2 linked regions of the Homo sapiens genome follow. The protein of the gene in region 2 purifies or fractionates together with the protein of the main gene of each other region. This does not show direct contact. Each region holds a gene or a part of one and is shown on either strand. Other genes may lie near its edges.

What was found.
Region 1: the proteins of CROT (region 2) and FBP1 purify together in Homo sapiens (affinity purification with mass spectrometry; one large-scale study listed by BioGRID and IntAct). This does not show direct contact.

What each region holds. Positions count from the first base shown.
Region 1 is NC_000009.12:94,632,849-94,636,665, forward strand, and holds part of FBP1 (fructose-1,6-bisphosphatase 1), read right to left. Parts: intron 1-3,817. UniProt on the Homo sapiens protein: Catalyzes the hydrolysis of fructose 1,6-bisphosphate to fructose 6-phosphate in the presence of divalent cations, acting as a rate-limiting enzyme in gluconeogenesis. Plays a role in regulating glucose sensing and insulin secretion of pancreatic beta-cells.
Region 2 is NC_000007.14:87,344,132-87,348,048, reverse strand, and holds the start of CROT (peroxisomal carnitine O-octanoyltransferase), read right to left. Parts: upstream 2,386-3,917; 5' UTR 2,282-2,385; intron 1,710-2,281; 5' UTR 1,619-1,709; intron 1-1,618. UniProt on the Homo sapiens protein: Beta-oxidation of fatty acids. The highest activity concerns the C6 to C10 chain length substrate. Converts the end product of pristanic acid beta oxidation, 4,8-dimethylnonanoyl-CoA, to its corresponding carnitine ester.

The sequences.
Region 1 (3,817 bases), on a different chromosome or scaffold from region 2:
GGGCCAGGAATCTAAGCTTGGCTCCATCTCTCTCCAAAACGTGCTCTGAATCCCTGCACATTCCTGTCTGCTAAACTGGTCCAGATCTCCTCCTCTTTTCTCTGCCTCAGGGCAAGCGTGCCAAAACAGACAGGCAAAACAGCCTGCAGCTGGACAGCATCTCCCAACAGATCACCCTCTAACATCTCAAGTTCAGCGTTTCCAAAATGTTGGGATCATCTTCCCTCCTTCCCCAGACTAAAAACCAGCTCCTCCTTGTTTTTGTTTTTGTGTTGTTTTGTTTTGTGGTGGCATGGGCTCTGCATTCAATTGCTAGGACCAGCGATTTCAGAAACTCCCTCACAGCCCTTCTCATCTAATCCATGCTCAGACTTCTTCCAAATCCTTCCTCTCCCCTCCAAGGCTGCAGCTCTGCTGGCTACTCAACTGACGGCTCCCCCTTGCCACTGGTTTTCCCATATCCTATCTTTCGCTCTTCCGATATACTTCCAGCCACACCTTCTCCAGATTTGTCTCCAGTCACGCAACTGCCCCACTCAAAAAACTTTCAAAATCCTTGATCTCTCCTTTTCTATACCCCCAAAAGTGTAAAGTGTTCACCCTTGCCATTTGATGCTTCCCCAATGTACCCACAATTTCACATCCACGAACGCCCTACCATGAGTACTCCATGCTTTGGTCAAATTGAGTGGGCAACTTTTCCAGAAACACTTTCCCACCTCAGGACTCCTCCCCCTGTGACCTCCAGCCTGAACTGCGGTCCAGCCGCCGGGCCTTTTGCTTCCCCTGCACGTGCCCATTCTTGGCGCTCCACAGTCCTTCACCATGAATCGTATTTTTGGCACCTCTATGAAAGCATCTTTCTTTTTTTTTTGAGACGGAGTCTCCCTATGTCGCCCAGGCTGGAGTGCAGTGGCGCGATCTCGGCTCACTGCAAGCTCCGCCTCCCAGATTCACAACATTCTCCTGCCTCAGCCTCCCAAGTAGCTGGGATTACAGGCGCCCGCCACCACGCCCGGCTAATTTTTTTGTATTTTTTGGTAGAGACGGGGTTTCACCGTGTTGGCCAGGATGGTCTCGATCTCCTGACCTCGTGATCCGCCCGACTCGGCCTCCCAAAGCGCTAGGATTACAGGCGTGAGCCACCGCGAAAGCATCTTTCAGACCGGGCGCAGTGGCTCACGCCTGTAATCCCAGGACTTTGGGAGGCCGGGGCGGGCAGATCACCTGAGGTCAGGAGTTTGAGACCAGCCTGACCAACATGGAGAAACCCCGTCTCTACTGAAAATACAAAAAAATTAGCTGGGCTTGGTGGTGGGCGCCTGTAATCCCAGCTATGGGAGGCTGAGGCAGGAGAATGGCATGAACCCGGGAGGCGGAGGTTGCAGTGAGCTGAGATCGCCCCACTGCACTCCAGCAAGGGCAACAGAGCGAGACTCTGCCTCAAAAAAAAAAAAAAGAAAGAAAAAGAAAGCATCTTTCAAAACCTCTATTGCGTGTTAGAACGATACAAATATTTTTTCCTACAGAGTAAACTCTGTGTTGTTCTCGTCTTCTGGAACTTTGTACATGGTGGATGTTCAGTAATATTTTGTTAATTGAATGAAATCAGTGAATTCTTCAGTCAGTGATTTGGAAATGGATACAAAGGGAAGTCAACTCCACAAAACAAAAAACCTGAAGCCACTGGAGCACCACTTTCTCCCAAAGGAATGCAAAGTGGACAACACTCGAATTTGACATTTGAACCACAACTTCATCAGCTTGACTTCAAGTTGCAGACTGTTCTGATCTGCACAGTTTCTCTCCCAAGAGTGGATGGAGGGAGCCAGAAGCCCAGAGGGAAGTCTCCCAGGGCACATTTGCCCAAAGCAATGACTCCTTGGTATCTAAGCCTGAATTCACATCAAAAATGTCGCCTGGCCAACATGGCTAAACCCTGTCTCTACTAAAAATACAAAAATTAGGCCGGGCGCAGTGGCTCACACTTCTAATCCCAGCACTTTGGGAGGCCGAGGCAGGTGGATCACTTGAGGCCAGTTCGACCCTGGTCAACTTGGCAAAATCCCATCTCTACTAAAAATACAAAAATTAGCCAGGTATGGTAGTGTACGCCTGTAATCTCAGCTACTCGGGAAATTGAGGCAGGAGAATCACTTGAACCCGGGAGGCAGAGGTTGCAGTAAGCTGAGATTGCACCACTGCACACCAGCCTGAGTGAGAGTGAGGCCCTGTCTCAAAAAAAAAAAAAAAAAAAAAAAACCAGTTAACTAATAGATGAGATTTAGAGTTTGGTGAATTCTAATTGATTTCTAAAAAATAAAGGAAGAGATGTGTAGTGTGGCCAAAAGACCTCCAATCCGGGGTTCCTGAGATCCCGGCCACAGGCCAAGTCATCTCATCTTCCTCGGTCTCAGGGTCCTCTTCTGTATGAGGAGGTGATAGACTAGCTGACTGTTGAGTCTCTTTCAGTCTAAAACTCAATGATTCCATGAACATTTTAACAGGAGCAATGAAAGTGACTACAATAGCAACTTTAGGTTACACCAGGCTCTGTGCTTAAACTCCTGATGTTTCCATAATGATCCTGGGTGAGCTCCCTAAACTGGCTCCAGTGAGGTTCCTGCAAATCTGCAATCACCCCGTCCCTCTGGGTACATGCTCTTCTAGGTCCGGTCTTCAGCACTAACAAGATCTTTGCAGGAATGCTGGTTTTTCTTTCTGGATTTCAATGCCTGGAATGAATGTAGGTTGGGGGCCTGGCTTGAGAATCATGCTACCTGCCTGATGACATGTGATACTGAAAATGGCCAAACGCTGAACTTCCCACAAGATCACCTCAGTGTCCAGCATCTAGTCCTGTCAGCTACCCCAACAACCAGGCATGCACACCAGTTCCAAGGGTACAGCACTGTAATACCCAAAGGCTAGTAAAAACCAAAGTGCCCCAAAATAGAGAAAAACTTCAATACCTCATGATGTGTGCAGGGGAGCAGCACACAGCAGTTAAAAGGAGGTAGATGTAGATGTCCCGATATTAATGGATGTTTCTTGAATAATGTTAAATAACAAAGCAAACTACAGAAATGTGTATTGTGATCCCATTTTGTCTGCTATTATAGGCATATGTAAATATGTGTTCATGTGTAAACTTATATGACTGTAAAAGAGTATCCGGAAAAATAAGCAGTAAATTATTTGCAGTGGATACCCCATGGGATATATATGGGGTGGGTTTCACTCTTCCCTTGAATTCTTTTGAATGGTTTAAATTTTTGTCAATGAGTGCAACATAGTATTTCTTTAAAACCTGGTATTCACAACTATCTAGTATAAAAGTACACATATTGGCCAGGCACAGTGGCTCATACCTGTAATCCCAGCATTTTGGGAGGCCAAGGTGGGCAGATCGCTTGAGCCCAGGAATTTGAGACCAGCCTGGGCAACATAACAAAACCCCATCTCTACAAAAACACAAAAATTATCCGGCATGGTGGCACATGCCTGTAGTCCCAGCTACAGGGGAGGCTGAGGTGGGAGCACCAATTCAGCCTGGGAGGTTGAGGCTGCAGTGAGCCATTATCACACCACTGCACTCCAGCCTGGGCAACAGAGTGCGACTCTATCTCAAAATAAATAAATAAATAAAACGCATACCTTACGTAGCCAAAATTAACATGCTTCATCCAGGCCCCACCATCAAAATCTCACTATCCAAGGTCCCACTGTCTAAGGTTACTTAGACAGTGGGACACCTCAAAACACATCTTACATTTCTCAGTCTCTCTAGGGGTGTGAAAGGTACTGACACATTTTT
Region 2 (3,917 bases):
ACTATCAAAAACATGGACACAGAAGAGACTATTTTCAGCTAATACCTGTTTTCCTCTGCTTTAACAGAATCCTGAGTTGTAGCTGTGCATACAGCCCCCAGTTTTATCTTTCCTACCCTCTCTTGGAGCTCAGTGTGGCTTTGTGATGACCTTGTGTGTGTCACTTCCAGGTCATGCTCCCAAAAAGGAATGCATGTGTTCTCCCTGCACTTTCCCTCCTTTTTACTACCTGCTAGGTAGTGACGAACTAAACAGCACCATGGCCTCATTTATGGAAGTCATATATGCAGGATTGCAGAATCTCCCTACTAGTCCTGGACTCCTACCTCTAGATGTATGGAAAAAAAAAAACTTCTATTTTATTCATACCATTGTATTTTGGGCTTTCTATTGTAGGGAGAAGAGCTTAGCCTGTACCACTAATATAAAGAGATAATTTGAAAATGAGAAATAATAATTAACTCAAAGTTCTTTAGCTTCTTTCTATCTATTGACTTTGGCTGCACACCATTTTGACCATCCATAAAAATGGGTTTGTACCTAATGGAAATGTAGATCTGGATCCAAGTACAGACTCTGCCACTTTCTAGCCATGTGCCCCTAGGGCAACCAACTTTAAGTGAATTTCCTTATCTTAGAGTGGTTAATCATACAATTCAATAAAGTCAGAATTTGTTTTCAATGCCTGTGAAAGCACATTATAAAAACAAAATAATCCTGCCTGAAACCACCATATTGTGGTAGGCACAATTACTATGAATGGCCCCCAAGATTCCACCCCTGCTAATCCCCAGAACCTGCGAATATGGTGAGATCATTACTCCTGTGATTGTGATATTCTCTACAGAACTGACCTTAAAATAGGGATATTATCGAATTGGAACTAATCTAATCACTTGAGTCCATAAGAGCAAAGAGCTTTCTCTGGCCAGTGGCAGACAAGTAAGACTGCTTTAATGCTTGAGAAGGATTTGTGGTGTCTTTGAAGATGCAGATGGCCTTAAAGAACTGAAAGAGGCTCAGGCTGACAAACAGTAAGGATATAGAAATGTCAGTGTGAATTCTACCAACAATCTGAAATAGCCTGGAGGTGGATTCTCCCCTAGAGCCTCCAGAAAAGAATCCAAATCTACAGAAACCTTGGTTTCGGTTTTGTGAAATTCTAAGCCAAGTACTCAGCTAAGCCCACCCAAACTTCACATTTACAGAAGCTATGAGATAATACATTTGTGTTGTTTTAATTGTTGCATTTGTGTAATTGGTTAAGGCAGCAATAGAAGACTAGTACACACATACAGAGAAGATAAGCTATTCTGTTTACCTCTGTGCCACTTAATAGACTCTAGAAAACTGGAAGCAAGAGTATTAGTTACATACCCACTATAGTGCTTAACCCACCAACCGGTACACATTAAAAATATAAATTATTGGATTCTTTCTTGAAGAGTTTTCTTGAATTCTCAACCACAAAGATTAAGTTAAATAAGATGGTTCCAATAGCACTAAGAAAATGATTATGCTAGATTTAATTAGAATTGACTTTCTGGGGGCAATTAGATATGAATTCACAGAAAGTGGAAAAGAACCACGAACAATACGTGAAGGAATTGTCACATACCAGTACACCAAGAAGATGAACTGCTTGAGACTGCCAGGAGCCTGCTGCAACAATTGTTTTGAGATCACAGGGAACTGGACTAAGTCGGTGACTGTGGGAAGAAAGAAACAAGCTTAACAAATATTTAAGAGGGAAAAAGAAATGAACAAGCTAGTGAAAGAAGGTGGAATGCAGACAAACTAGGAGTTGGGAGTTCCCAAGACAAACTTTTCGTGAATCACTGCAAACACACGCAAATAGTCCACCTGCTAGAGAGCAGGAGTAAATGATCATACAATTAAGTAGGTTTCAGACAAGTACACCTTCCATTAGACGGGTTCAAAGGGTAGAGGATACGTTTTCAGTGGCTGGGTAACAGGTTCGTCGCAGAGTGGCAAGGGGTAGAAGCAGGAGCAGAGGGCAATGAGAGCTCGGAGGCTCTTCCCACCAACCCAAGAGCAACTCTGCACTCAAGAGGCCATCAAGTGAGAGAAATCTAAGCACTACAACGGAGCAGCCCCGCGGCCCAACCTTGAGGGTACCCCTGAGACCCCAGCAGGCGAGATGCTTGATGACACTACTCCCCCACCAAATCCAGGCACCTTTGCGGTTCTGCACGACTTAACTTTCCCCCGCCCCCGAGTTGAAGGATTAGGGGAGGGAGGGAATGCTGCTTCAACGGACCTGTCCGTCCTCACCGCCCGCGCCTCGCCGCCTCTGCCGCAGCCTCAGCCTGCAGCAGCACCGGCTCGCTCCCCCTTGGGCCTCAAAGGTGCGGGAATTGGACTGAAGGCCGCTAGGGTCCCGCCCCGCATTCGCCGGGGAACAGGATTGGATAGAAAGCCGCGAGGGTCCCGCCCCTCACTTTCCGGGGAACGGGACTGGACGGACAGCTGCAAGGGTCCCGCCCCGTGCCTGACGTCGGGGGCGAGCCGGGCCTGCGCGGTAGTGGGACCCGACCCTGTCTCCAGTGGGCGTCTTGGGCCCCGGCTCTATTCTGGGCTGCGGGCCTGGGAAGGGCTCGCCGGGTGCCAAATGAGCTGTCCTAACTCTGCGGGGCTGCAGCTTCCTGCATGATGCTGGGGAGCTTGGCGCCTGACCCAGGATCTAGAAGGCACTCTGGGCAGGCCGCGCTCCGCCCACGAAGGTACCCAACCCTCTGGGATAGATGCAGGAAGCGATGGTTAAGACCCATTTTCACCCAACTTCTCGCCGCAGGTCTGGCTTACCACACGCTCCTCCCCATTCCCAGTGAGCCGCTTTTTGCAGCACCAGGCGAACACTTACACCAGTGCTTTGTAAAGGAATCTTATTGTCCACCCCGTGTCTTGGCAAAAGAACAGTGATCACACAGATTCCTACTTGGGCTCTTTCCTTTAATCTTCGGAGGCTGAGTTTGCCCAACTCAGGTATGCCGCAGCACACTACATCATCTCGGGTCTCCTTGCTCTTCTGCAGCTCTTCATTGCTACCCAAGTTATTTGAATACCCCAGGGATGCTTACCCCCGGGCCTATCTGATGTCTTTTACTGTTGTGCCAAGAAATGGAATCTTTAACCAGAGTGGAGCTACCCAAGTTCTAGAAGATCATAATGTGATTGACTTAGTTTCACAGATTAATTCATTTTGCTTTTACCTTCTGAAATAAAATATACTGTTTCATTTTTAATTTTAAATACACTGTTTCATTTTTTTGTGGAAGGAAAGACCAAATGTTTACACTGACTCTGAACTAGTTATCAAAGATAAAGATTTAGATTTCAAATTAACATGTCATGACAGGCCCCATTCCTTTGTCTGTCGTTTCTAACTCCTTTAGCAGTAAAGTTTGACCTGAAGGGAAGTGAGGCTATGTGTAACTGAATGTTCCCTTTGTGTAAATATTCATAAGTTTTCTACAGAAATATTGTGTTTGATTACAGTACAGCTTGCTGGAAGTGTTTCATAATATATGGCAGACGTACTATTCTAAGAAAAGTTCTGAATTTTGAAACATATCTAGCCAAAAAGATTTTAAATAAGGGATTAGGAATTTGTAGTTGTAATTTCTGAAGGTGTGATAAAGAACTTTTTCTTTCATATATAAGTGCGATGCTCTGGATGATGTTAAAGTTTGCTTACAAGATAAAGTTTTTAAATTGAGTAACTAAAAACTACTCAGAAACCTTCGTTGTATTTTTTTTCTCCTTTTTAGTGAGTCTTGGCATCTCTTTAAAAGTTTATGCATGTTTAATGCCTGTTGGTGCATAGAATTTAGAACCATTTCGCTTCACTCTTTTTCCTACTCTTGTTGTTTATTTCAATGGAAACAAGATGTTTC